Regions from separate parts of the Homo sapiens genome. Here all the other regions are linked to region 6. The links come from fine-mapping of genetic effects on gene expression. A gene starts in region 6. Each other region holds a variant in brackets. All regions are shown on one strand. Distances are from middle to middle.

Region 1 (4,063 bases), 110 kb before region 6:
GAGCGAGACTCCATCTCAAAAATAAATAAATAAATAAATAAATAAATAAATAAATAAATAAATAAATAAATAATAAGTAACCTCTTTATTTTATTTTTTGAGACCAAGTCTCGCACTGTTGCCCAGTTTGGAGTGTACTGGCGTGATCTTGGCTCACTGCAGCCTCCGCCTCCCAGGTTCAAGAGATTTGCTTGCCTGGGTGTTCGGTGGCTCACGCCTGTAATCCCAGCACTTCAGGAGGCCGAGGTGGGCAGATCACAAGGTCAGGAGTTCAAGACCAGCCTGGCCAAGATGGTAAAACCCCATCTCTACTAAAAATACGAAAATTAGCTGGGCGTGGTGGAGCACGCCTGTAATCCCAGCTACTTGGGAGGCTGAGGCAAGAGAATCACTTGAACCCAGGAGGCAGAGGTTACAGTGAGCCGAGATCACGCCACTGCACTCCAGCCTGGGTGACAGAGCGAGACTCCATCTCAAGACAAAACAAAAAAAAACAAAAACAGAAATATCTCAAATCAACTTAAACAACCAGAAAGGAACAACCTAAACCCAAAGCTAGTAGAAATAAGAAAATAATAAAAGATTAGAACAAAAATAACAGAAATGAAAAATAGAGGATGAAACCAAAAGTTGATTTTTTGCAAAGATCAACAAAATTGACAAACTTTTTGCTAAATGGACTAAGAAAAAAGAGAACACTCAAGTTACCAATAGTAGAAATCCAAGTGGGGACATTACCACTGATTCTACAGAAATAAAAAGACCGCAAGAGAGTGTTATGAAAAAAGTCGTACACAAATTGTATAACCCAGATGAAATGAACACATTCCCAGACACGCTAAACATACCAAGACTAAATCAGGAAGAAGTTAGAAATCTGAGTGGACCTGTAAGTAGTATGGAAGTAGAATCACTAGTCAAAATTCTGATAAAGAAAAGCCCTGGTGGGCACCGTGCCCACACCTGTGATCCCAGCACTGGGGGAGGCCGAGACGGGCGGATCATGCGAGGTCAGGAGTTCAAAGCCAGCCTGGCCAACATGGTGAAACCCCATTTCTACTAAAAATACAAGAAAATTAGTTAGGCATGGTGGCACACGTCTATAGTCCCAGCTACTCGGGAAGCTGAGGCAGGAGAACTGCTTGAACCTGGGAGGCAGAGGTTGAAGTGAGCTGAGATCATGCCACTGCACTCCAGCCTGGGCGACAGAGTGAAGCTGCGTCTCAAAAAAAAAAAGAAAAGCTCTAGACCTGATGCCTTCACTAGTGACTTCTACCGCATGTTTAAAGATGATTTAATGTTAAAAATTCTCAAACACTTCCAAAACACTTAAGAGGACGAAATACTTCTTAAGTCTTTCCATGAAGCTTGCATTACTCTGACACCAAAGCCTGTCAGAGATATAAGAAAACTAGAGACTAATATCCCTTACGAACATTAACATAAAAACCAACAAAATAGGCCGGACGTGGTGGCTCATGCCTGTAATCCTAGCACTTTGGGAGGCCGAGGTGGGCTGATCATGAGGTCAGGAGATTGAGACCATCCTGGCTAACACGGTGAAACCC[C/T]ATCTCTACTAAAAATACAAAAGATTAGCTGAGCATGGTGGTAGGCACTTGTAGTCCCAGCTACTCGGGAGGCTGAAGCAGGAGAATCGTTTGAACCTGGCAGGCTGAGATTGCAGTGAGCCAAGATCGCGCCATGGCACTCCAGCCTGGGCGACAGAGCGAGACTCTGTCTCGAAAAGAAAAAAAAAAAAAAAAAAAAGTCATATATGAAAAACCCAAAGCAACCGTCTTACAGAATGGTGAAAGAATAAACTTTTCCTTTAGGATAAGAAACGAGGCAAGGTTGCTGGCTTTCACCACTTGGACTCAGCATAGTACTGGAAGTTCTGACCAGAGCAATTCGGGAAGAAAATACAATAAAAGCCACCCAAATTGGAAAGCAAGAAGTAAAATCATCTGTTCGCAGAGGATATGATCTTATATACGGGAAATCCTTGAAGATTACACACACAGACAGAATGTGTTCGAACTAATAAATGAATTCAGCAAAGTAGCAGGATACAATGTCAAAATGCAAAACCAGTGCATTTCTATATACTATCAATTAACAATCTAAAAAAGCATTTACGGAAATAATTCTACTCACAATAGCATCTTGGCCAAGTGTGATGGCTCACGCCTGTAATCCCAACACTTTGGAAGGCCAAGGCAGGCGGGTCACTTGAGGTCAGGAGTTCAAAACCAGCCTGGCCAACATGTTGAAACCCCATCTCTACTACGAATACAAAAAAATTAGCCAGGTATGGTGGCAGGCGCCTGTAATCTCAGCTAGTTGGGAGGTTGAGGCAGGAGAATTGCTTGAACCCGGGAGGCAGAGGTTGCAGTGAGCCAAGATGGTGCCACTGTACTCCAGCCTGGGTGACGGAGCAAGACTCTATCTGAAAAAATAAAAGTAAAAGAATAAAATACTGCCGAGGTGGATGGATCATGAGGTCAGGAGATCAAGACCATCCTGGCTAACACAGGGAAACTCCGTCTCTACTAAAAATACAAAAAATTAGCCGGGTTTGGTGGCAGGTGCCTGTAGTCCCAGCTACTCGGGAGGCTGAGGCAGGAGAATCACTTGAACCTGGAAGGCGGAGGTTGCTGTGAGCCGAGATGGCGGCCACTGCACTCCAGCCTGGGTGACAGAGCGAGACTCCATCTCAAAGAAAAATAATAAAATAATAAAATAATAAAATACTTAATAACTAACTTAACCAAGGAGGTAAAAGAATTGTGCAATAAAAATCTACAAAAAATTAAAGAAAGCATAAACAAATGAAAACACATCCCATGTTCATGGATTAGAAGAATTAATATTGTTAAAAATGTCAACACTGCCCATATAAATCTGCAGATTCAGTGCAATCAATTTTGATTAATTCAAAACAGTATTAATTCTTCTATCAAAACATTTTGATAGGGAATTCGTATCAAAGTCCCACTGACATTGTTGTTACAGAAAAATTCATTTAAAAACTCACATAGGCCGCGCGCGGTGGCTCACGCCTGTAATCCCAGCACTGTGGGGGCCAGGCGCGGTGGCTCCCGCCTGTAATCCCAGCACTGTGGGAGGCCGAGGCGGGCGGATCACGAGGTCAGGAGATCAAGACCATCCTGGCTAACACGGTCAAACCCCGTCTCTACTAAAACTACAAGAAAATTAGCTGGGCGTAGTGGCGGGCTCCTATAGTCCCAGCTACTCGGGAGGCTGAGGCAGGAGAATGGCGTGAACCCAGGAGGCGGAGCTTGCAGTGAGCCGAGATCGCGCCATTGCATTCCAGTCTGGGCAACTGAGCGAGGCTCCGTCTCAAAAAAAAAAAAAAAAAAAAAAAAATTCATATGGAACCTTGTGGAACCCCAAATAGTCAAAATAATTTTTAAAAAGAACAAAGCTGGGCTGGGCGCGGTGGCTCACTCCTGTAATCCCAGCACTTTGGGAGGCCAAGCTGGGCGGATCACAAGGTCAGGAGATCGAGACCATCCTGGCTAACACGGTGAAACCCCGTCTCTACTGAAAATACAAAAAAATTAGCTGGGCGTGGTGGTGGGCACCTGTAGTCCCAGCTACGTGGGACAAAGCTGGAGGACTCACAGTTCCCGATTTCAAAACTTACTTCAGGCCGGGCACAGTGGTTCATGCCTGTAATCCTAGCACTTTGGGAGGCTGAGGCGGGTGGATTGTCTGAGCTCAGGAGTTTGAGACCAGCTTGGGCAACACAGTGAAACCTCGTCTCTACCAACATACAAAAAATTAACTGTGCTTGGTGGCACGTGCCTGTAGTCCCAGATACTCGGCAGGCTGAGGCAGGAGAATCGTTTGAACCCGGGAGGCAGAGGTTGCAGTGAGCCAGGATCACACTGCTGTACTCCAGCCTGGGTGACAGAGCGAGAATCTGTCTCCAAGAGAAAAAGAAAAAAGAAAAGAAAAAACTCACCTAAAATCTTCAGTAATTGGGTTGGGTGCAGTGGCTCACGCCTGTAATCCCAGCACTTTGGGAGGCCGAGGCGGG
Region 2 (4,063 bases), 150 kb before region 6:
GGGCTCCCGAAGACGGGTCCTGCGTGGCTTCCCAGGAGGGTACTGCTGTCAGCGAGCGTCAGCGCAGGTGCAGGCGGTGCTGGCTGCGCAGGCGCACTAGAAAGGATGCCGACACGTGCAGTGCGCGCGCGGAAGACACCGGCGAGTTCCGCCCTGGGTGCAGATTTCCGCATTAGGAGACGGCGCAGGCTGCGGCCGGCACCTCCCGGCCCCGCGCATGCGTCCAGACTCTGCTCATCTCCACTTTCTCACGGCACCTGCGAGGTCTCCGTGGGGCTGGCGCCAGTGAAGGGGTGGGCGGGAAATAATCAGAGGGGGTGGCCCAGGTCCTATCTCAGCGCAGTCTCCATACCAGGGAATATTATTCACTCCTGAAAAGGAACACGGGCCTGATCCCCGCTCCACCGCGGACGAACCTTTAAGACGCGATTCTAAGCGAAAGGCGCCGGAACACAGAAGCCACAGCACGTAGGGCTCCATGGAACGGAGGTCAGAACAGGCTGCTCCGCGGAGCAGGGCGGGGGCTGCAGGGCCCGGGAGGGGCGCGGAGAGCGGCCGCCGACGGGCCGGGCTCTGCGCGGGTAGAAGCTGTTCCGGAGCTCGAGAAGGTGCTGGTCCCGCAACACTGTGGGGGGGCCCCGCTGAGCTGAGCCTTGCGACCCGGTTTATGTGACGTGAGTTCCACCTCAATCTAAGTGTGAGGAAGCGAACAGCGTTCTTAAACTCAGAAACGTGCCCATTCGAATTGTTAACGCGAGCGCAGAGCCCACTGACAAAGCAAAATAAGACAAACCGGGAGTCAGAAAACTCAGCGACCCACAGGATCCACCGTGATGTTTCTCACAAATGTTACCGCGAAAACAGTCGGACTTGAAAATAAACGCGACCTACCTGGTTCTCGGAAGGGGAGAAGGATCCGAGCGAAAGGCGTCAGTTCTCCCTCGCTCGCCCCGTAGACGCCGCGCAGGCCCCGAGCTCCCGAGCGGCGGTTTCAGAACCCGCGGGTCACCCGGGAGCTCCTCCCGCAGTACCAGCCGAAAGCTCCCAGTGCCGAGGAGGGCGGGCAGCTGCCCTCCCCGACCTCGCCCCGCCCGCGCGGACGCCCCCGGCCCCACGCGGGGACCACCCCGGGACTCCCGCCGGACCCCGCGCGCCCGCGGCCAACCTGCGTGCACCTGCGCCCCGCGCCACGCCCCCGGCGCCCCACGTTTAGCCCTCACTGGGTCCCGCTTCTTAGTGGCTCTAAGCCCCGCCCCCTCGCTGGTCACCGCAAGCTCCGCCCCTCGAGGCCCCGCCCCTGCAAGGCCCGCCCCTTCACGACTCAGGCCCCGCCCACCACGGCCAGCCCGGGTCTAGGCCCCGCCCCGACACGACTCAGGCCCCGCCCCCGGCCAGCTTCGCTCCTCGCGCGCCCCGCCCAGCAATCCTCGCTGAACCCGGCGCGGTTTCCCCAGCGCTGCTCCACGCCGCAGTCCAGCGCCTGGAGTCCGCGCGCCCCGAGCCCCTGCCCGCTCATGCGCAGCTGGGTCACCCAGGTGCACCCACTTCCTTGCTGTCCCGCCGCCCTCCCTGCCCCCACCCCGCCTAGGCCCTGGGTGTCCCTTCTCCATCCTCCCTGGCGCCTCTGCC[T/C]CAGGCCACCTGGCCGTCCTCCTGGGCTCCCCGCTCGGGGGCGGCCCCTGGTCCGACGGTGCCGCAGACGCGCGCGCACAGGCCAGTCCCGCGGAGAGGCTGCTCTCAGGGGCTAGGCGGGGGGCTGAGTCAGAGGCTGGGGCCTGCCAGGAGCGGGGCGGCCTGGGGCGCAGCAGCATTGGAGCTGAAGGCGAGGGCGGCCCGCGCCGGTTGGGGAGCAGGGCCTAGAATTTACTTCACGACTACCAGCGTGGAAACTGCAGAGGGGCTGCCACATCGCTGCCAGGGCCTGCCCTGGGGCCTTGGATCCCGCCGGCTTCTCTCTCCACCCGCCTCTGTCCCACGTCTCCACCTGCCGTCCTGTTTGGTGCTTGGATCCACTAATGCCCAGTCAGCTTTCACGAAACGTCGGATGTATTTATTTTTTTTAATATCTGGGGTACACGTGCAGGATGTGCAGGCTTGTTGCATAGGTAAACGTGTGCCATGGTGGTTTGCTGCACCTATCAACCCGTCACGTAGGTATGAAGCCGGACATGCATTAGCTATTTTTCTTAATGCCCTCCTGCCCCCGCCCTCCCCCAACAGGCCCGAGTGTGCTTTGTTCCCCTCCCTGTGTCCATGTGCTCATGTTGTTCAGCTCCCACTTATAAGTGAGAACATGCCGTGTTTACTTTCCTGTTCCTGCGTTAGTTTGCTGAGGATAATGGCTTGCAGCTCCACCCATGTGCCTGCAAAGGACATGATCTCGCTTCTTTTTTATGGCTGCATAGTATTCCATGGTGTATATGTACATGTAACACATTTTCTTTATCCAGTCTATCATGATGGACCCTGGGGTCAATTCCATGTCTTTGCTATTGTGAATAGTGCTGCAATGATCAAATCACAAAAAGCAATTGCAACAAAAGCAAAAAATGACCAATAGGATCTCATTAAACTAAAGATCTAATTAAACTTTTGCACAGCAAAAGAAACTATCATCAGAGCTAACCAGAGACCTACAGAATGGGAGAAAATTTGTGCAGTCTATACATCTGAAAAAGGTCTAATATCCAGAATCTACAAGGAACTTACAAATTTACAAAAAAAAATTTTTTAAGTGGGCAAAGGACGTGAACAGACACTCCTCAAAAGAAGACATACATGCAGCCAATAAACCTATGAAAAAAAGTTCAACATCACTGATCATTAGAGAAATGCAAATCAAATCCACAGTGAGATACCATCTCACGCCAGTCAGAATGGCAATTTTTCAAATGCCAAGAAACAGGCCAGGCATGGTGGCTCATGCCTGTAATCCTAGCACTTTGGGAAGCCAAGGCGGGTGGATCACCTGAGGTCAGGAGTTTGAGACCAGCCTGGCCAACATGGCGAAACCCCATCTCTACTAAAAATACAAAAGTTAGCCGGGCGTGGTGGCAGGTGCCTGAAATTCCAGCTACTCGGGACCCCACTGAAGCAGTAGAATTGCTTGAACCTGGGAGGCTGAGGCTGCAGTGATCCAAGATGGCATCATGCACTCCAGCCTGGGCGACAGAGCCAAGACTCCGTCTCAAAAAAAAAAAAAAAAAAGTCAAGAAACAACAGATGGGCTGGGCGCAGTGGCTCACGCCTGTAATCCCAGCACTTTGGGAGGCAGAAGAGGGCAGATCACTTGAGGTCAGGGGCTCAAGACCAACCTGGCCAACATGGTGAAACCCCGTCTCTATCAAAAACACAAAAAAATTAGCCGGGCATGGTGGCGCATGCCAGTAATCCCAGCTCCTTGGGAGGCTGAGGCGGGAGAATCGCTTGAACCCGGGAAGCAGAGGTTGCAGTGAGCCGAGATCGCATCACTGCACTCCAGCCTGGCGACAGAGTGAGACTGTCTCAAAACAAAAGAAAAAAAAAAAAGAAGCAAAGTAACAACATAGGCTGGCAAGGTTGTGGAGAAAAAGGAACACTTTTACACTGTTGGTGGGAGTGTAAATTAGTTCAACCATAGTGGCAGACAGTGTGGCGATTACTTAAAGATTTAGAATCAGAAGTGCCATCTGACCCAGCAATCCCATTACTGGGTATATACCCAAAGGAATGTAAATCATCCTATTATAAAGATACATACACACATATGTTCAAAACGTTAGATTTTAAAGTAAAAACTCAGGGATAGCACGGCCCCCAGCAGTAGATTAAGCTGGATAAAAAGAGCCAGGAACTGGAAAGGGCATGGGGAGGCGCAGAGCTGAGGCCAAGGGTCAAGCACCTCGCCGGGAAATGCCACTGAGCACAGTTCTCCAGCCGCTGCCCAAGTCCCTCTTGAAATGGGCAGGACAGGGAGGGTGCGGCCGCAGGTGCTGGGGTTCATTTCTTAGGCCTGCGTCATGGCTATGGCCCTTAGCTGGGTGGTGTGTGGGCTGTGTCTATGACACCACCGAGGACGTGGGTATCC
Region 3 (4,063 bases), 79 kb before region 6:
GCCAGCCCACAGCCCTGCACCTGGGGTAGGGGACGCAAGCACCCTGGGAGGTGGATTTTGTGGACACTCGTCCACTCCTCTCTGTCCCCCACCCAAGCCAGGCAAGACCCATGGACATTAGTGACCTGCTTCCCCACAGGGGGTCCCCAATGACACCCCCAAGCTCATCCTCGACTGGACCCTTAGCCAAGAGCCTGGAGGGAACCACCTCGAAGCCCTTGAGACGTCTGGGGCCACCGCCCTGCAGCCAAGCTCCTGGGACTTAACGCCTCTCTTGAGGTCTGCTCCTAGCCTGACACTCAACCCCAAGGGGCTGCTGTGTAAGAAAGCTCTGCACACACTGGGCGCTTGCTGCAGTCTACAAACACCACTGCGAGGTGGGAATGGGGTTTACGAACACCACTGCGAGACGGGAACGAGGAGCGGTTCTGGGGCCGACCTTGCACTCCTGCTCCCCCGGTTTTCCAAGGAAGGGTGCTACGAGATTCTAGGAACACGCTTGGTGGCGTGTGGGTGGGTTTGCCTGGGAAGAGAGTGCGAAGGCCCCTCAAGCTTCTCAGGCTTCAACCCCTCCCCCAGGCTGGAATCTGGGGCCACCCCGTTCCTGGATGGCCAGGCATGCCAGGAATGGCCCCAGCTGTTGGCCTGGCCCAGAGCGGCTGGAGCATCTTCCCTGGGCCCCACCCTCTCTAGCTGCTGCGGGCTTCAGAGAAGGGATGTGGAAGAAGAGGCATGGAGGCAGCTGTCCCCTCCAAAGCACGGTGTCTGGGGCTGTCCTTCCACTGTGGGAAGAACAGTGGCCTGGGAGCCACTTCCCTTCTTGGCCTTGGTCACAGTCACCCGAGCTAAGAGCCCCTGCCTGGCCCCCAGGGTGCTGCTGACTGTCTCCCAGAGACCAAGGGGCTCCCAAAACCCAGATGCAGAAGTGGGGACCTTCCCAGCAGGCTGGGGTTCTCTGTGAGTCAAGTGTGCTGCCCCAGACCTCAGCCGCCTCCCAGCTGGGGTGGGGTCCCAGGTGTAGAACCAGCAACTAGGGATGGTGTAGGTGCAGCAGGGCTGAGAGGGGCCAGTTCTGAAGACACCCTCCGGGTGGGGCTGAGTGAGCTCAGCAATCAGAGGTGGCCCGAGCAGGGGAGCAACCCCTCACTTGTAGAAGGCCCTGATGGGCCCACGCTGCCTGCCTGGGGGCTCACCAGGAGGCGGCCCAGGACCCCAAGGCTGCCCAGGAGAGCTCACAGTCCTGAAAGCTGAGCTGCTGGGGGAGGGGCAGGCAGGGTCCTGACACTGACATATTTTGCCTCACAGTGGAGTGAATTTGAGCCTTGGCGATAGTCCCCTTGCCATCTGGCCCCCACCTCCACCACCTCCCCCAGCCTCCAGCTGTCGGGGGAGGGGGTTATTGTCCCCCAGCCCTGGGCGAGAAAAGAAGGGACAGTGAGAGGGAAGGCTTCTGAGGAGGGAGAGGTCCTGCCTGCCTCCCCACCTGCCACAGAGCCCCCTGGGGCCTTTTGAAAGGCAGACACTCCCAAATCCAAAGGAAGAGGTCTGGAGGAATGTTTTCACAGGCGCCAGCCTCCCCACCACCATGCCCTGGGTTGGGGTGCCAGGGAAGAAACCCTGTCCCCAGAGCAGGTGGGGAAGGGCCCTGGAGGCATGGAGCCCCCCAGCCTGCGCTCCCCGGCAGAGGGCTGAGGGGTGGAGGGCCGGGGGGTGAGCACGCATGCTGAGCCACTGTCTCCCCCCACCACTGTCTCCAGATGGGGGAGTCGGGGGTGGCAGGAGCCGTGGTGCCCTCAGGGGCAGCTGCTGGAGGGTCTGGCTGGCCAGGCGCCTGGTCAGCTGCCAGGGGCTGAAATTGGAGCCAGCTGGAGCTGGGAGGCCTGTGGGAATGAGGGGACTCAGGAAGCCCCTTCAGTGGGGGCTGGGAAAGGAGTGGCTTCCCTTACTCACTGTGTCCAGCACTCCCTGACCACCCCAGGACCACAAGAGCAATGAATACTGTGAGCACCGCTAAGCCCTTTATGTGCATTCTCTCTCGAATTGGCCAGAGAGAGGCTGCCCTCTTGTACCCAGTGAC[G/A]TCCCAACCACAGCCGGCCATGCCCCAGCCCAGCCCAGTCCCTGGGGGCTGAAGCCACTGAGGCCACATCCTCCATGTCTAGGTCCCCCTAGGGTGTGAGGAGACGTGGCTCCAGCTAGGCAGTACCCATGTCGGGTGTGGGGGGCTGAGGCCTGGGCTTCCTTCCACTCTGGCTTGCTCCCACGTTGGAGAGACCACGGTGCCAGCAGTCCAGACAAGATTTTTAGGGGCAGAGTCCAGCAGCCTCTGGGGGCTGGGCCCCCAGGCCTGATCACCCCAGGCAGCTGCGGCAGGGTCCCAGGTGAAGCCCAGGAACAGAGCCCCCAGGGCTGCCACACGCCACTCTGCAAGGCCGTGTGTTGCGACCTGGCTCGGGCTGGGCCCTCCCAATCGAGAAGTAGCCGTGAGGGTGAGTTCCTGGGGGCAGGGCCTGCAGCCACCCCTGCTGGCCAGGAACTTGGGGTGGGGGGTTTGGACAAAACCCAAGACTAGCCAGGGGTCCTGTGCCCACCGCAGGGAGTCCCTATAGAAACCTGGCCCCCAGCCCCCCAGAGAGGGGCACTCCTGCCGCTCCCCCCTCTCTCTGCTCCACTCAAGACTGGCAACCCCCAGACCCCGGCAGCGGTTCCTCCAAAGAGAGGGCACGGCTACCTGGGTGGCCCCTGCCTGGGGTCCCTGACCCCAGCAGCACTCTGCAGTCCTGGGGGTGATTCCACCAGATGGAGTGTTTGGTTACACTCACTCCCCACAACCCCTGGGGTGCTGCCCCCAGCCCAGGGACCCACCCGGAGCCACTCCGCTCACAGGCCCCCAAAGGCGACCAGGGCCAGTGGTTCTGGGGGAGACCTGTGCGGCTGCAGTTGAAGACACTGTCCCGCAGCGTCGAGGGAGGCAGCGGGGACCCCCGCAGGTGCCGATGCCTTACCTGGGCCAACAGCCCGAGGACGAGGAGGAACGCGGCGTCCATCGGGGCCGAGGCGGGAGCCGGGCCGGAGTGCACCCGCGACCCGAAGAAGCGCGTCCAGGCTGAGTGACAGCGCAAGTGCGCGGGGCGGGCCAGGGCCAGAGACAGAGACAGCACGTGTGAGGGGGGCGGGGAGGGGGCGGGGCAAGGGCTGAGTGACAGCACGAAGGAGGCCTCTGACGGGCCGAGGGCCGGCCTGGGCAGGGCTAAGGCTGAGTGACAGCGTGTTGGCAGGCGGGTGGGGCGGAGCCTCTGGCGAGCTAGGGCGGGGCGCAGGCTGAGTGATAGCCCGTGTGCGAGTGGGGCAGGCGGGGCGGGGCCGGGGCCGAGGGCTGAGTGACAGCGCAGGTGCGCCGGCGGGGCGGTGACCGCACGAGGCTGGTGGGGCGGAGCCAGAGGAGGATGGGGCGGGCGGGGCGGGGCCGAGGGCTGAGTGACACCTTGTGAGAGTGCGGGGTGGGGCCGGGGTGGGGCCGGGGCGGGGCCGAGGGCTGAGTGATAGCTTTTGCGGGGTTCCGGCGGGCAGGGCCAGGGCTAGGTCGGAGATACCCCGGCTTGCTGCGTTGGGAGCAGAGCCAGAGGCCAGGCTGTGGGGAAGGCAGGGTGGGTGCGTCCGGGTCAGGGACCAGCTGGGATTCCTGGCTTCTTCATTTCCTGCTCCTTGGGCCCGGCTCGCCCCTGCTCCAGGGAATCTGCATTGTAGTCCCTGCCGGGGGACACCTCTTGAGCACTTCCTTGGGCCCCTCGCCTCTCTGGCTGCGTCTCCTGCGCCTCCCCGCATCCCACTGAACGCTAGGCCCGCCTTCCACGCACCTCCTCGCGACCTCATTTTGCCCAGCTCTTATTCAGTATGGAACTGCTCTGGTTCACACGCCTCTGATACCAGCGTGGCTCGTAGGACACCCCCAATTCCCCCAGTCCACGCACCTCCTCCAGCATCCCCTTGTTCCCCGAGGCCCCCTGCCTGGAGCACCTTCCTTCCTACAGAACTCCTTCTCATCATCCCTCAACACCCAAGGTCA
Region 4 (4,063 bases), 32 kb before region 6:
GAAACGTTGGTAGGGCACAGTGGCTCACACCTGTAACCCTAGCACTTTGGGAGGCGAGGAGGGAGAATCACTTGAGGCCAGGAGTTCAAGATCAGCCTGGGCAATATAGTGAGACCCCCAACTCTACAAAAATAAAAATAAAAAATTAGCTGGGCATGTTGGCACATGCCTGTGGTCCCAGCTACTTGGGAGGCTGACGCAGGATCACTTGAGCCCAGGAGTTCAAGGCTCCAGTGAGCTATGATTGCACCACTGCACTCCAGCCTGCGTGACAGAACGAGACCTTATCCCCCACACACAAAATAATAATAATAGAAAAGAAAACCTCTAGGCCCAGATGATTTCATTGGTGAATTCCACCAATCATTGAAAGAAGAAATAATACCAATTCTACACAATCTCTTCCAGAAAAAAAAAGAGGAGAGAACACTTCCCAACTCATTTAATGAGGCCAGCATCACCCTCAAACACAACCCAAAGAAAGTACAAAAATGGGAAACTACAGACCAAAATTTCTTATGAATACAGATGCAAAAATACTCAGCAATATGCTAGCAAATCAAATCCAGTACTATATATAAAAAAATGACCCACCAGGACCAAGTGGGGTTTGTCCTGGGAATGAAAGCTTGGTTCAATGTAATCTACCATATTAACAGCCTAATAAAGAAAAGTCCATCAATACCGAAAAGCTTTTTGAAAATATTCAACATACATTTAGTGATAAAAAGTCTAAGCACATTATAGATAGAATGGAATCTGCAAAAAGCCAGTAACTAACACACTTGCTGAAAGACTGAATCCTTTCCCTAAGATCAGAAATAAGAAGGTCCACTCGGACTGCTTCTGTTCAGTATCGTATTGGAAGTCCTAGTCAGGGCTTTGGTCATACAGGTTGGAAAGGAAGAAATAAAACTGTTTGTATTTGCAGAAAACATGATTGTATTTGTAGAAATTCCCAAGAAGTCTATTAAAATCTCCTAAAACTAGTAAGTTAATTTAGCAAGGTAACAACTAAAGTATTTGAGGCCAACACACAAAAATCAATTCTATTTCTACCTACTAGCAATGAACAGTTGAAAACTAACAACAGCAACAAAAACGTGACTGTGTGCAGAGGCTCATGCCTGTAATCTCAGCATCTTGGGAGGCCGAGGCGGGCAGATCACTTGAGGTCAGGAGTTTGAGACCAGCCTGGCCAACATGGTGAAACCCTGCCTCTATTAAAAATACAACAATCAGCCAGGTGTGGTGGCACACATCTGTAATCCCAGCTACTGGGGAGGCTGAGGCATGAGAATCACTTAGACCCAGGAAGTAGAGGTTGCAGTGAGCTGAGATCGTACCACTACACTCCAGCCTGGGCGAAAGGACAAGATTCTGTCTCAAAAAAACAAACAACTCTCCCCCCATACCCACCTGCCATACTTACAATAGTTTAAAAAGGAGAGGAAAAGGAGGAGAAGAAATAGGAGGAATAAAGAAAAGAAGAAACATTTACTTATAAATTTAACACAAGTACAGCATCTATATGCTGAATACAACACAGAAGAAACCAAAGTATATCTAAATGGAGAGACACACCATGTTCACTGATCTAAGTAAATGGAGAGACAGACCGTGTTCACAGATCTATGTAAATGGAGAAACATACCGTGTTCACGGATCTAAGTAAATGGAGAGATATACCGTGTTTGCGGATCTAAGTAAATGGAGAGACATACCGTGTTCACGGATCTACGTAAATGGAGAGACACACCAGGTTCACGGATCTAAGTAAACGGAGAGACACACTGTGTTCACGGATCTAAGTAAACGGAGAGACACACCGTGTTCACGGATCTAAGTAAATGGAGAGACATACCATGTTCATGGATTGGAAGACTCAGCATAGTAATTGTTAATTCTCCCCCAAGTGATCTCCCCGATCAGAATGGCTAAATTCCAATCAACATCTCTCTCTCTCTCTCTCTCT[T/CTCTCTCTT]TTTTTTTTTGAGGCAGTCTCACTCTGTTGCCCAGGCTGGAGTGCAGTGGTGCAGTCTTGGCTCACTTCAACCTCCACCTCCCAGGCTCAAACAATTCTTGTGACTCAGCCTCCCGAGTAGCTGGGATTACAGGCGTGTGCCACCACACCTGGCTAACTGTATTTTCAGTAGAGACAGGGTTTTACCATGTTGGCCAGGCTGGTCTTGAGCTCCTGGTCTCAAGTTGATTAGCCTGCCTTGGCCTCCCAAAATGCTGGGAATACAGGCATGAGCCACTACACCTGGCTTTCCATTCAAGACCTCAAAAGAACTTTTTGTAGATATAGACAAGCTAATTCTTTTTTTTTTTTTTTTGAGACAGAGTTTTGCTCTTGTTGCCCAGGCTGGAGTGCAGTGGCGTGATCTCGGCTCAGTGCAAACTCCGCCTTCTGGTTTCAAGTGATTCTCTTGCCTCAGCCTCCCAAGTAGCTGGGATTACAGGCACCCACTACCATGCCTGGCTAATTTTTGTATTTTTAGTAGAGACGGGTTTCATCATCTTGGTCAGGCTGGTCTTGAACTCCTGACCTCAGGTGATCTGCCCACCTTGGCCTCCCAAAGTGTTGGGATTACAGGTGTGAGCCACCAGGCCCGGCTAGACAAGCTAATTCTAAAATTAATATGTGCACCAAAACAACTCTGAGAAAGAATAAAGCTGGTGAAATCACACTACAATTGTTAAGACCTACTATAAAACCACAACAGTCAAGATAATGTGGTGTCGGTAGAGGAATGGAAACATAGATCAAGGGAACAGAACAGATAACCTGTATGTAGACCCTCTCAAATATGTCCAATTAATCTTTGGCAAAGTGGCAATGGCAATGCAATGCAGAAAGGGTAGTCTTTTCAACAAATATCACACACACATGCAGTGTGCGCACAGGTGTCACATACACATGCAGTGTTGCACACAGGTAACACACACGTATATGCAGTGCGCACATGGGTATCACACACACATGCAGTGTGTGCATATGTGACACACGCAGTGCGTGCACAGTTATCACATACACATGGTATGTGCACAGGTATCACACACATACACGCAGTGCATGCATGGGTATCACACACACAGTGTGCGCATGGGTATCTCACACACATACATACAGTGAGCAGATGGGTAACACACACACATACATGCAGCATGTGCACAGGTAACACACACTCAGTGTGTGCACGGGTATCACACATGCGCAGAGTACGCACGGGTATCACACACATACGCACAGTGCACGCACGGGTAACACACACATGAGCAGTGCACACACAGGTATCACACACATGCAGTGTGCACAGGGGTATCACACACATACATGTAGTGTGCAAACGGGTCTCACACACACATATATGCAGTGTGCACACGCGCCCCCTCGTCCTATGACATCGTCAGGGAGTCCGGCCTGGAGCTCAGCCATATTGACTTCTGGGGTTTCCATCAGGTCTTTTTTTCTGTATTTATGTGTGTAACAGCTGTGCACACACAATGTGTATGTGTGTGTGATACTTGTGTGGACACTGCATGTGTGTGATACCCATGCGCACACTAGGCATGTGTGTGATACCCATGCGCACACTAGGCATGTGTGTGATACCCGTTCATGCACTGCATGTGTGTGATACCAGTGTGCACACTGCGTGCGTGTGATACCTGTGTGTGCACTGCATGTGATACCCATGCGTACTACGTGTGCTATCCGTGTGCACACTGCGTGTATCTGTGATACCCGTGCGCGCACTGCATGTGTGTGTGGTACCTGTGATATGTCACAGGATGTGAGGGAGTGGTAGGAGCCAGCCCCTCAGCGAGGTGATGGAGGAGGCTGAGCCCTGGGCCTGGCAGGCCAGCTGCCACCTGGGGAGGGTCCAGATACTCTGGCCCCGGGGATGATCCTGGGAAGGTGTCCTCCCATCCCCACAGGGCACATTCCTTTCTGCAGGTACTTTCTGTTTCCTGACAAATATGACACCAAGCCTCTTAATTCAGCTCTGAAGGCCTGGCTGATCATCTGCCCAGGAACAGTCATGAGTCACTCCACAGGCCTAGG
Region 5 (4,063 bases), 20 kb before region 6:
CCAAAGGGCTGTTCGATGGAGAAGGGAGTCTTTTCAACGAACAGTGCTAAAAAGTTAGACATTCACACACTAAAAAAGAACTGTGGTCCGTATCTCGCACTATGTACAAACATTAACTCAAAATGGATCATGGTCCCAAACGTAAGAGCTGAAACTATTCTCTGTGACTTTGGGCTACGCAAGGATTTATTAGATATGACATCAGACAATTCACAAAACAAATTGATAAACCGGGCCAAAACCTAAAACTCCTGATTTTAAAGACGCTGTTAGGTGAATGGGAAGACAAACCACAAGCTGGGAGATGATATTTAAAATCGCACAGCTGACACTTGGGTCCCGAATTTTAAAAGCTCTCAAAACTCAAGAAAACAAAGGCCCCAGTTGAAAACGGAATGACACGAACAGGAAGAGGTGCTCAACGCCACCCATCATGAGAGAATCATGAACTCAACGAGACACCACCACCGCCCGCTGGAGCAGCAGGTGCTCGTGACCTCCCACCCATTGCAGGGGGAAGGGGATGGTGTAGCCGCTCTGGAGAACAGCTTGAAAGCTTCAGACAACACAGCAATCTCTCTCCTAGGTATCTGCCCAGGTGAAATAAAAAACCACGTTCGCACAGAAACCTGCACACAAATGTTGATAACATCTCACGTGTCATTGCTTAAAACAGGGTCACAAGCGGTGCCGCACCCACACCACGGATGCCACTCAGCAGGGAAAGGCGCGGGCTCTGACGCACACAGCACAGGCAGTTGACTGTGGGCGGAAGCCGGGCGGAAGCAGACAGGCTCAGAGGCCACGTCCTGCAGGATTTAGCCACGTGGCCTCCCAGAAAAAGCAAAACCACAAGAAGAGAAACAGGAACAAGGGGCCAGGCCTCGGGGGTGGAGGAGGTGCTGAGCACTAGGAAGGGAGTTTCTGAGGCGAGGAACCCTTCTCTATTTTGACTGTGATGATGTTTCTTAAGACACACAGAGCTGCACGCCAGAGGGGTGAATTTTTACTGGGTCTGCAGGTAAGCAGCTGCACAGACAGATGTGCGGGATGGTCTCACTTTAAGTCTGCACTGAGATCTCTCTTCTACTCTAGACAGACTGGAAGGGCTGCGCAGAAAGCAGCAGGGTGGCCCCCCAGCTGTGGGCTCTGTTCCCAGAAGTCCCAGCGGAGGACCCAGGGCTCAAATGGTTGGGTCAGATGAAAGTCAGAATGGGATGTGTTAGGGAAGGCTGGACAAGAGGGGCCCGGTATCAGGAGCCCACATCTAGAGAAGGAAGACAGGTGCTTGACTCATCCCACCCTGCCCACCACACCCACCTCTCCTGGCACTGCTGCTGGCGCTGTGTGGCACCCGGACTCCAGACAGACGGAGGCTGCCACCACTGCTGATGTGGTCTGGAGCCAACAGCATGGCCCCCCGCCTTCCTCTGAGACATGCACTGACGCCTGCATTCCAGGCATTGCTGTTCTTCCCATTGTCTCCCCAGTCATACAGCCAGGGGCCAGCACAGACACCTCCCCCATCCACCCGACTGAGACTTGGGAGAAGGCTGATCTACCCAGAGGGGACAGGTCGCAGTGCATCCTGAGTGCTCTCCTGGCCGAGTGGCCTGTCCCACGGGGGAGCATCCTCCATGCCGCCCTTCAGTCCGAATGTGGGTGGTTCGAGACTGGCCCACCTTGGGGGGCTCAGAGCACAGTGGAAGAGGAACGCAGCTGTGGGAAGTGCTCGTACCTGGCAGGCGCACGGCAGTGGTCAGGGGCCCGGACAGAGCCATGCCGATCTCGGTCATGCCATACCGCTCCAGCAGGGTGTGGCCCGTGATGTTCTTCCACTTCTCCAGCACTGGGAGGGGCAGGGCAGCTGAGCCTGAGACCATCAGCCTACGCGGCACAACCAAAGGCAGGTTTAGCCCCTTGGGACGTGGCTCTCGC[G/A]TGCAAAGGTGGCAGGTTTAGCCCCTCAGGAGGCGGCCCTTGCTTGCAAAAGTGGCAGCTCCTTCACGAGTGCAGGAGCCCCAGGCCGTGGGTACAGCACCACTGTGCGACACCCGGGACCAACGCTGCAGTCTGCGCTACGGCGTGACTTTGTTTTTTGAAAACGATCTGTTGGGTGTATTTTAGAAGGAAGCAGGTCCAACAGCTAATGAGGGTAAACAATGTGCTTAGGGTCCGCGGTGTCCCCTGCAAAGTTCCTGCGCTGTTCACAACCACGCTCAAGAACAGCAGTGACCGTGCAGCTGCCGACCACGGAGCTGATCACGGGTGAACAGCCACGGCGCTGCAGGCTGCGGCCAGGCACATCCGGGGACTACAGCCGGCTCAGCTTGCAGGCTCTGCAGCAGAACGCGGACATGGGTGAATGGCCGCGGCACCCAAGGGGTGGGGCCGGGCACACCCAAGGGGCTCAGAACCACCCGCAGAACTGCAGCCATCTTGGCCCACAGGGTCAGCTCAGGCTTGGCAGGAGAACACGGGCCCTGAGAACTCCGAGTCCCCGCGCTCTCACACAGCATTTCCCGCAGCCTCACGGGCAGTAGGGAAGGCGCTTTTGTTTGCGGTCTGAGCGGAGTGGTCCCTGCTGCTGCCCCTGCTTTACGAGGAGGCACCACTGACAGGACCCCCGCTGGGAGATCCAGATGGCCGAGGTCTCATTGCCTCTGTCACCCCAGAAATCACCTGATCCTCTCCTTCACTGACCTCGTTCTTGCCCTTGGTTCCTTAGATTTGGTAAAACGTTGTGCTCACCCTGCTCAGCTTGGGGCCTGCCCAGCCCCAGGGTATCCCAGCAGTAGCAGCAGCAAAACCATGGGCTCCGGTGGCCTCACAGAAAAGGGGCAAGGGAACGGCAAAGAGAGCGAAGCGGTTCAGACATGTGCCTTGGACAACCCGGAATTCTCTCCAGGAACAAAGGTGCCGCTTCCCTGTGCACTTCCTGGGGACTGGGAGGAGCGCGCGGCAGCCACAGACACACACATCCCACTGGAAACTGGATGGCAGTGGAGCCTTCAGTTCCTGCAGTGCACCCTCCACGCCACCCCTCCCTCTCACAAAAAGAAAAAATACCCCACCCACGACTCTGCTGGAGGTGCGGGCCTGTGATGCGTGTGAAGACTCACTGAGCCACACGTGTGCGTTTCCAGTTAGTGAACCACACCTCAACAGCCACGAGGGAAAAGAAACGTTCCCACGCCTGCAGGTTCATGGGAGAGTGCAGAGCAAACACGCCCCTGGGTGGCCCAAAAGACCAGCTTGTCCTGGGAGGGAGGGGTTTATCCAGGGAGCTGGGAGGGGAGGAGCGGGGCTGAGAGGAAAAGCAGCAGAACGTGCCCCAGGCAGGAGGCCTCACAGGGCTGCCCACGAAGGCAGAGAGACTGCATAGGAGAGGCAGGCGCCGTGGGACATGTGGGCAGATGAAGCAGGAGCAAGCGGGTCAGCTCACTGTCCTCACCCTTGTCCTTCAGACGCCATGACAGAGAGAGAGAGAGACGGACAGGAGAGAGAGCAGACAGACAGACGGAGACAAAGACAGATGGAGAGATAGAGACAGATGGAGAGACAGGAGAGATAGAGAAAGAGAAGACGGAGAGACAGATGAAGAGCGATGGAGAGAGACAGAGAGAAGACAGAGATGGAGAGTCTGACAAGAGAGACAGAGAAGACAGATAGATGGAGAGATGGAGAGAGAGAGACAAAGAGAGACAGAGAGAGATAGAGAGACAGAGTGTGACAGAGAGAGCGATACAGAATCCAGGCAGCTATCGACGTGGAAGAGATTACAGATATACATACAGACGGGTAGAGAGAGAGAGAGACAGTTAGAGAGGTAGAGACGGAGACGGGTAGAGAGAGAGGGAACATTGAAAGGAAATGGAAAGCACTGCTTCCCAGAACTTAGTAGGAGTGATTTATTAGAAATAAGTCGTATCTGTTGATCTTTAAGACTTTCTGAACGAGAAAGTGGGCTCTTTTCACTTACCTAATTTTTTCTTCACAAACTGCACGCAAGAAATCCTGGGCGTGCGGCTGGGTAAAATGCCTGTCGTAGTACTCCATCAGCTTG
Region 6 (4,063 bases):
AACGGCTGCTGCCTTTGTCCTCATTTCCTCACTGGCCTAGCCCTTCACTTCCCACCGCTAAGATGGCACAGTAACAAGACCTGCCTCACAGGCTTCACGTGAGAATGTACGAATGGCCCGGCACAGGCCAGGCAGAAGACAAACGGCCGCGCCGTGCTCAGCAGGGTGCTCCCCATGGAGCCTCGCAACAAAAATTACTAGATGAGAATGACACTCGCATTCAAATGAAGGGCTGCTTTCAACATGAATAAAACGACACCTGACCTGTTCACCACCACACCTGACACCCCCGCCCCCCCAGACCTTGTGTTTGAAGTGGATGCCGGCACTTCCTCCTGTCGGCTGCCCCGATGAGAGCGTGGGGCAGAGGAGGGCTGTGCTCGGCCTGCGGGGCAGGATGCGTTTCAGCATCACACCTGTGGTTTGGAGGGTTATTTTCAAAATTACATTTTTAAGTAACAGACATTCACATTGCATTCATGAGCAGTACATTCAAATAAAAAAAACCAAAAAGGAAAAATACACTTGAAACCCATATCCATTTTAGGAAGAAAAATACTATTTTAAAAATGCCATCTGGAAAGGTGACACTTACAACTATCCCAAGCCCACAGTTTAATCCGCCATTTCTGTCTGCCTTGAGGAGATGGTTCAGAGCCAAAGGAGCAAGAGCAAGGGAAGCCTCATCTTATGTCCTCCAACACCTGCGGAGAGGACACCAGCCTGAGCCAGGCTTCACGCTACAAAGCTCGCAGGGTCCCCAGGGTCCACCGGTAGTAACACCCGTGCTCCTGGGTCCACCATGTGAACCCCCTCCTCAACAAGGTCTCAGCCTTGGGCCCTAACACGAATGTCTGTCCTCCCAGGATGGGAAAGCAACAACTATGCCCCAGACACAATTCGTGTTCCTATCTCTAAACGTGTTCCCTTTCTAGCAAATTCCTAATCATTCTTCCAAGCCCAGTTCAAATATCACCTCTTCTTTTTCAGTTTTATTATTTATTGAGACAGTGTCTTGCTCTGCCACCTAGGCTGGAGTGCAATGGTGCTGTCATGGCTCACTGCAGCCTCCGATTCCTGGGCTCAAGAAATCCTCGTGCCTCAGCCTAACCAGTAGCTGGAAGTGCAGGTGTACGCCACCACACCCAGCTAATTTTTACATTTTTTTGTAGAGATAGGGGTCTCACCATGTTGCCCAGGCTGGCTTTGAACTCCTGGCCACAAGTGATCCTCCTGCCTCTGCTGCCCAAAGCGCTGGGATTACAGGCATGAGCCACTGCACCTGGCCTGCCTGGTGGAATTTAGACTCAGGACAGCAACATCAACTCCTGACTGCACCGGGCCTCACCCCTTTAAACCTTCCCTCTCTCCAGGGAATGGGCTGCCTGCAGTACCTTCCAAATACTTCACGGCCGGCCGCACGTCTCCATTGCTTGCTCATAGATCTACATGCCCTCAGGGGCTAGGCCGGCTGTGAACCTGTGCCCCACGCGCCCAGCAAGGTGCACGCAGCAAACAACTAAAACGGGGAGTACTTCAAGGGTGACTTCTGAAGCCCAATGAGAAATGGAAGTGAATTTATTCCAAACACAACCAAAGACGATTCGTTCTGAGGATGCCTGAACACGGACCCCGCCGGCTCGACGGTATCACCGGGCCCGGCGTCCGCACAGCTTCTCTCCCCGCACCCCGCGCGGGGGCCCCGCTCCCCACCGGACACGAGAGGCTCGGCGTCCCGGGAAGGCCGACGCCCGGCCCCAGGCGGCTCGCGGGGAAGCGACCGCGCCACGGGCCACGGCTCAAGCCCAGCTGCGACCCAGGGGCGGGCGCCGGAGCCCGCGCCCCCGAGAGCTCTGCGCCCGGCCGACCCCGCCGCGGTCCCGTGGGCCCCGCCGCCCGCACCTACGAGACGGCCGCGGCCACGGGGCAGGATCTGCCTCGCCACAACTCTTCCTCGTCCTCCGCCGCGCGCGCGCCGGGGTCGGGCCGGGTTCCGGCCGGGTCCCGCGGGGTCGTGAGTCGGGCCGGACCAGTTCCGGCGCCCAACAGCTTCCCCGGCGCGGCGCGTCCGTCGCCCAAGCGCGTCCCCCCGGCGCGGCGCCGTGGCGGCGGGTTCCGGGCGCGCGTGTTCCCCTGTCCCGCCCGTCCCGTCGTGGCGGGGTCGGGGCCGCGGGCGTCTCGTGAGCCGTGGCCGAGGCAAGGCGCCGTGGTCTCCGCTAGCCCAGGGCTGCCCAGATCAGAACGGCGCGCGGGACCACTCCCAACGCGGATTGCTGGGCCTCGCCCCGTCCTCCCAAAAGGGGCTCTCTGGGCTTTGCGGCTGGGGGTCTGCACGCTGAGCTCCTGGGTGATTTTATTATTATTATTATTGTTGTTACTTTTTCTTATTATTATTATTATTTTGAGATGGAGTCTCGCTCTGTCGCCCAGACTAGAGTGCAGTGGTGTGATCTCGGCTCACCGCAACCTCCGCCTCCCGGGTTCAAGTGATTCTCCTGCCTCAACCTCCCAATTAGCTGGGACTACAGGCGCCCGCCATCATGCCTGTCTAATTTTTGTATTTCTTGGGTGATTTTAAACGGACCGCATTTGAGAATCTCTCCTCGAAGGGACTTGGGAACCAGGATACGAATATGAAGCGAGACTGTTGGATGGACAGTGGCGGAAAACATTTAAAGCCAAACACAAAGTCCAGTTGGCTGAAATTTGAGGGTTTTTCCCCTAAAATGAATACTAATAACACAAAGACATGTACTGGCAAACAGTAGTACAAATTATCTGCAGAACCGTCCTGGTGTGATGGCTCACGCCTGTAATCCCAGCACTTTGGGAGGCCGAGGTAGGCAGATCACGAGGTCAGGAGTTCAAGACCAGCCTGACCAACATGGTGAAACCCTGTCTCTCCTAAAAATACAAAAATTAGCCGGGAGTGGTGGCAGGTGCCTGTAATCCCAGTTACTCGGGAGGCTGAGGCAGGAGAATCTCTTGAGCCTGGGAGGTGGCGACTGCAGTGAGCTGAGATTGCGCCACTGCACTCCAGCCTGGGCAGCAGAGTGAGACTGTCTCAAAAAAAAAAAAAAATTATCTGCAGAACCTTGCACAGTTTTTTTGTAAGTGTATTATTTTCCATGCCCATCTTCCTCTCTTGTGATGATTGCTGGGGCAGCAGTTGTGTCCTTGGAAAGCTCAGGAAAGGGCACTTCAGGAGCCCGAGGATGGTTTTCCTGGGAGGAAGGAGCTGGATCTGGGGGAAGTTTGTAACACAGAGCGTGGGAGAACAAACCCAAACTTCTAGTGCCTCTGGTTGCCACCCTGCTAGGTATCATGCAGAAAAAGCAAGTCCAACCCTCTGCCACTGGGACAGGCTTGATCTGGTGTCAGAATTCTGTCTGCTTCCAGGACTCAGCAGGCTGAATGGTGTTTCCGACGAGGGCAGTAGGAAGAGTAAGGAGGGCGTCTAACATCAGGATTCAGCCCCAGGACGTGTGTGCGCAAATTTCTATCCCTGGGAAGTTGAAGAGCTCAGGCTGCGTCACCCACCTAGAGACAGGACTTGGGACAGGGTGACAGCTCCCGTGGTCCTTGGCCATGGCTCTGTGAGGGTGGCAGTGGGGGGAGGGTGCAGTCTCCGAGAAATGGCCCAGTCATCCTATGAGCAGGGGTCCCATCTGTGCCTCGGCTCTGGTCAGCATCATAGTGGCAGGTGGGAAGCAGGAGCAGTCAGGGATTAGCAGACATTGGAGGACAGCCTCTAGCCAGAGAGACGTGGGCTGAAACAACCAGCAGAACAACTGCAGGCAGCCAGGCTGTGCAGAGTGAAGAGACCCCCAAAACCACCCCCTGTTAATACCCTCAGGGAGACAAGGGAAGCGACAGCCCCCATGAGTCCAGAGCGAGATGCCCCGAGAAAGAGCGTTCCAGTAACATAAAGGGGGGCTGGAGGGGTCAGAATACAACAGCCTGAGTAAAAACCCTAAGGGAAGGGCTAAAGGACGTCTCCTAGAAATAGAACAGAAAGACCGAGAGATGAAAAACAGGAGAGGAAAGATAAAAAAATCAGTGG
Region 7 (4,060 bases), 230 kb before region 6:
TCACGTCTGTCCTGCCAGCCCCGTAGAAGGATTGTCTTTTGAGCCCCATTGCAGGGGAGGTGGAGCCCCTCTGGGCTGCAGGGGCTCTCGCAGTGTGGAGAGGCACAGGGCAAGGACGGCTGTTCCCAGCATCAGCTGGCCCTGGATCCCAGAGCTGGCCGCAGACACTGTCCACTCCGCTGGGCTGAGTTGTGTCTTATTTTGGCACAGATGCGGGGCTGCCAGGTAATGGGCAAGTTCCCTGAGCCCACAGCTTTGGCGCCGTGGCTTCTGCTTCAGGGAGTGTGCCAGTGGCTCGTGTGGGGGACTCCCACCACCCTGGACTCTCGGTGACCCTGACAGTCCACGAAGCTGGGACGGTTGCCATCCGCCAGGAGGTGAAGTAACAAGGAATGCGTGGCCTGGGGGCGGTCAGGGCCAGGTGCTGGCCGGCCCCTCGGCTCTGCGTTTACCTTCCCGCGGCTGTGCCTTGCCGCTCAGCACAGGGCGTGAGTCAGCCCCAGTGGCCTGAGGCGTGTTTCAGTTTCCTGCTGATTCAAGGGTCGTGAGTTTAAAATAGACTTTGCCTGATAACTTGGAAATGAGGGAGATTTAGGCTGCACTTAAAATGAGTCTAGGCAGGGACAGCCAAGTCACCTTCCAGGGAAGAGTCTCCCCCGGGAGTGAGACCCGGTGCCTTCTGTTGTGTGGTCGGCTGTGCAGCATCGTGATGAGAAGGCACAGGGGCTGCGGAACTGTCTAAAGAGGGGACTCCCAGCTTCAAGGACTGTTTTATGTGACAGCCCTGCCAGGGAGGCCTGGGGACATCATCACAGCCCCCACCCTCAGACAACACCCATGAGTCAGCAGAGCCTGTTGGCCTGACTCCTGAGTGCCGTGCAGCCCCTGGTAGAAGTCACTGACACGGCTGAGTAACGGTTCCTCGGCCCTCGGCTGGCTCTGCCATTTCACGGCAAGGGGTGAGGCTGACCAGCCCTGAGCCTGGTGGAGGGAACACAGGGCAGTGTGGGGGCCAAAGGTGCCAGAGGCATCACCAGGGCAGCTTCTGGGAGGACTGGGATGGCAAGTCTTGGAACAGAACAAAAGCAACTGGAGCCTCTGTCCTCATCTGGTCTCTCATTGAAAAAGACTCTAGAGTGGGCCGCGTGCTGCACGCCTGGTGCCTGCAGGCGGGTCCTGGGAGGTGTAGCCTGGGCTAGATGGCAGCTACATCCAAACCAGCTTCATCCACATCCAGCAGATGCTTCAGCAGGACATCTCAGCTGTCACCATCTCCATGACTGTGATGAGGGTGGTGGTTCATGGAGAGGCGGGGGCTGGGGTTGCAGGGCCTCGAGCACATCGCTGCCATCGGTAACATGTTGTAGCCAAGGCCAGGCGGACACGAGGGTCCTGGAAGGGCCACGGCCTGGATGGTCTTAGCTGTCATCGTGCAGGTGGCTGGAGAAACGTCTCCAGAAAACACAGCGTACACCTGGGACAACACTCCCGAGTCCCCGGAGTGTTCGCTGTGATGCAGGCCGTGAAAAGTATTTTGCCTGGTGGGTGCGACCCACTTCCTCCACCTCCTGAGTGGACTCCCAGATCCCTGGTCCATTGGGGAAGGTGCCTGGGCAAAGCACCAAGCTAGGGACATGAAGAGAATCAGGTGTCTCAGGAGTGAAGTGATAAGCCCCGCACTGTCGGGGCCCAGACACCGTCCGGAGGCCGTGGGGTCTGCGCCCTGACCACGCCAGAGCTGTTGAGTGTGTCCGTGGGCCACAGACTCACATCTGGGATCAGGACGGTGGA[C/T]TCTACATGGTGAAGGCCCCGTTTTTCCGTCCTGAGAGCAGACAGTCTGGATTTTTTAAAATGTTAATTCCAGATAATCCTTAAACTTGTAAACATTACCACTGAGTTTCTAGACAGCCATGAGCTTGAACAGCCTTCCGAGTCAGGTGCTGAGATGCCCTTTCTCCAGGCTGAGACATTCCGGTTTTGTGGTGGAAAATTGGAAGAGAATGTAAAATTCATTGGTTCAGGTAGAGAGAGAAAATATGTCTGGCCTCAGGCATCAGGGATGGTGGATGGAAACACCTGCTCACCTGCACCGCGGGTGGAGGTGTCAGGCAGTGAATACGTTGACCCGACCTGTCCCTCTCTCCAGAATAACTTCACCTGTGTTCTTGTACCAGTTAAATACCAAGACAGCAGTTGGTGGGATTTTATCATTTATTTTAGAAAGACAAAGCAGGTCATGAGATGGTGTTGGAGGAGAAGCATCTTGTGGTCTCAGCCAAGCCTGCGTCCAGGGGCAGGTGGCATGCAACGTATCCTTTAGCTGACGGGGTGGAGGTGGGAGAGGCTCACAGTGGAGCTGCCACTCACAGATGGGTCTGCACATCGTGTTTCAAAAGCCATACTTCGTGCATGAGCGAGATGGGTAAATGCAGGGGAGCGAGTTGCAGAAGCTGCTTCTCCCGGCATGGTCGCGCACAGAGGTGCTGCTGTGGCGGAAAGGGCAGAGACGTGCACACAGTTCCATTTGTATGAAATGTTTTCTAACTGACGGTGCGGCGAGGACATGATGGGGGGACAGTGGCTTTGGGTGTGGGTGTGTAGGTGTGTCCCCCATTCCTCTCGTGAGTGCACCCGGGAGGCCTGGCTGTGATGGTGAACAAACCTAGAAGGCCCACAGGCAGGGAGGAGGCCCATGCTCCGAGAGTGTCCATGCCAGGCGTGGCGTGGGGAAGTTGGCATCGCCACAGAAGAGACCAGGACGAGGCTGGGAAGGAAGAAGTGCGCTCGCACCGTGTGTCGCAGAGGGGCAGCCTCACACCACGGGGGTGGGAGTCGGAAGCAGGGGCTCGGGGAAGGCCTCCCCCAACTGCCTGTTGGGTTTCCTGCAGAAAGAGAGGGACGGGGCAGAGCAAATAGTTCGGGAGTGGCTGCTTCGGAAAGTTCTTGCAGGCTTTGTGCTGTAGGGACACTTTCTAGTTTCCTTTACCTGGCTCTGCGCTGGTTTCAGGCAGGGCTTGGCCTGGGCGTGAACTTGGGTAAGAAGGTGATTGGGTTGCATGGGAGCCCTTGGCTATCTAGGAATTTGCCAGCCCTGAGAGAGGGGCAGTCTCTCCCTGGCCAGAAACTTGTTAAGATGGCAAAATTTCCTAAAATAAAACATGATTAATAAATAAAAATAATATACAATTAATACAGTATGTGTCCTCGGATTTCCTGGGAAACCCAGGAGCTGGAGCCTGAGGCCCGAGGGGGCGTCTGCTTCCATGGGCGTGGAGTTGGGACCTCGGAGCTGCTGGGACTCGCTCAGAGACACCCCTTGCCTACCAAGTTAGGGAACTGGGTGTGCAAAAAGCACAGGCCTGGTGGGGACAGGAGCTCCTTCCCAGGTGGTGAGTGGGGCGTGAGGCTGGGGCTGTGGACATGACCTGCCAGACCTGAGGGCTGGGGTACTGCGCTGCGTGTTGTGACCTTGCCTGTAATGCGGGGAAGGGACTGCCTTGTGGTGCCTGACCGTTTTGGGTGTAGCCTGTACCAGGTGGGACCCAGGATCCAGGTGCTGCTGACTGCCACCCAGAACACAGCCACACCCTAGGCCATGCGTCCCTTTCTGCCACTACAAAGTGCTTGACCCTTCTCTGTTCTCCTTCCTGCTCAAAGCTGCCATTCCTGTTGCTGGTGACCCCTTTATGGGAGGCGTATCCTGAGAAGTCCCTTCCTGGGCCTGGCCCGGGCCCCAGCCCTGATCAGAGCAGCTGCCTGCCTTGACTAGTTACTGAGTCTGTTGAGTGCGGTGTGAGAGTGGATGAGTTTTGAGCTGCCTCTGAATTCAGTGAATTGTGTGTCTTCTCTTTTGAAGCAGACGGTTGATGATGAAGCGCCGGCCGTGTAAATGAAGATCGGGTGAGGAGCAGGACGATGCCCAAGGGTGGGTGCCCTAAAGCACCACAGCAGGAAGAGCTTCCCCTCAGCAGCGACATGGTGGAGAAGCAGACTGGGAAAAAGGTAATGCTGCCCCCTCCCAGCCCTGCATGCTCACCGCACCCAGATGGGGATGAGGTGG

Alleles and levels. Positions count from the first base shown, and alleles are read on the strand shown. Sizes are in standard deviations (SD) of each study's normalised expression. Not every link is listed here.
For the expression in regulatory T cells of the gene that starts at base 2,047 in region 6, allele T in region 7 goes with a lower level than allele C (large effect, 1.5 SD a copy in Schmiedel 2018).

What was found. PIP is the estimated chance that this variant, and not a neighbour inherited with it, causes the effect.
Region 1: its variant is fine-mapped to the expression of ACSF3 in lung (TOPMed, PIP 0.92).
Region 2: its variant is fine-mapped to the expression of ACSF3 in lymphoblastoid cells (TwinsUK, PIP 0.95).
Region 3: its variant is fine-mapped to the expression of ACSF3 in whole blood (TOPMed, PIP above 0.99).
Region 4: its variant is fine-mapped to the expression of ACSF3 in prefrontal cortex (CommonMind, PIP 0.95).
Region 5: its variant is fine-mapped to the expression of ACSF3 in prefrontal cortex (GTEx, PIP above 0.99).
Region 7: its variant is fine-mapped to the expression of ACSF3 in regulatory T cells (Schmiedel 2018, PIP 0.95).

What each region holds. Positions count from the first base shown.
Region 1 is chr16:89,204,773-89,208,835 of GRCh38, reverse strand. No RefSeq gene overlaps it. Among named protein-coding and RNA genes, the nearest start is that of SLC22A31, 6.3 kb to the right of the region's middle. The variant C/T (reference allele first, on the strand shown) is at 1,569.
Region 2 is chr16:89,244,831-89,248,893 of GRCh38, reverse strand. LOC124903766 reads right to left here and starts at 1,516. Exons shown (of 3, transcript XM_047435040.1): 1 at 1,432-1,516; 2 at 892-1,297; 3 at 1-769. The coding sequence starts at 1,516. The coding sequence ends at 235. RefSeq lists a silencer at 989-1,738. The variant T/C (reference allele first, on the strand shown) is at 1,630.
Region 3 is chr16:89,170,813-89,174,875 of GRCh38, reverse strand. It overlaps CDH15 (cadherin 15), which reads right to left and starts at 3,128. Exons shown (of 14, transcript NM_004933.3): 1 at 3,003-3,128. The coding sequence starts at 3,044. RefSeq lists a silencer at 3,053-3,692. The variant G/A (reference allele first, on the strand shown) is at 2,078.
Region 4 is chr16:89,123,611-89,127,673 of GRCh38, reverse strand. All of the region lies in intron 7 of ACSF3 (acyl-CoA synthetase family member 3), which reads right to left. Among named protein-coding and RNA genes, the nearest start is that of ACSF3, 32 kb to the right of the region's middle. The variant T/CTCTCTCTT (reference allele first, on the strand shown) is at 1,976.
Region 5 is chr16:89,112,163-89,116,225 of GRCh38, reverse strand. It overlaps ACSF3 (acyl-CoA synthetase family member 3), which reads right to left. Exons shown (of 11, transcript NM_001243279.3): 5 at 3,980-4,063; 6 at 1,739-1,887. Among named protein-coding and RNA genes, the nearest start is that of ACSF3, 20 kb to the right of the region's middle. RefSeq lists a silencer at 1,371-1,665 and enhancers at 1,761-1,860, 1,060-2,259. The variant G/A (reference allele first, on the strand shown) is at 1,939.
Region 6 is chr16:89,091,836-89,095,898 of GRCh38, reverse strand. It overlaps ACSF3 (acyl-CoA synthetase family member 3), which reads right to left and starts at 2,047. Exons shown (of 11, transcript NM_001243279.3): 1 at 1,903-2,047. RefSeq lists enhancers at 1-44, 1,264-1,453 and a silencer at 1,874-2,283.
Region 7 is chr16:89,316,875-89,320,934 of GRCh38, reverse strand. ANKRD11 (ankyrin repeat domain containing 11) reads left to right here. Exons shown (of 13, transcript NM_013275.6): 3 at 3,857-4,002. The coding sequence starts at 3,916. LOC128462377 reads left to right here. Exons shown (of 2, transcript NM_001416403.1): 2 at 3,860-3,889. The coding sequence ends at 3,889. It overlaps LOC100287036 (a long non-coding RNA gene), which reads right to left and starts at 483. Exons shown (of 4, transcript NR_168302.1): 1 at 1-483. RefSeq lists a silencer at 31-110 and enhancers at 441-954, 631-1,010, 955-1,467, 2,729-3,320, 3,321-3,912. The variant C/T (reference allele first, on the strand shown) is at 1,792.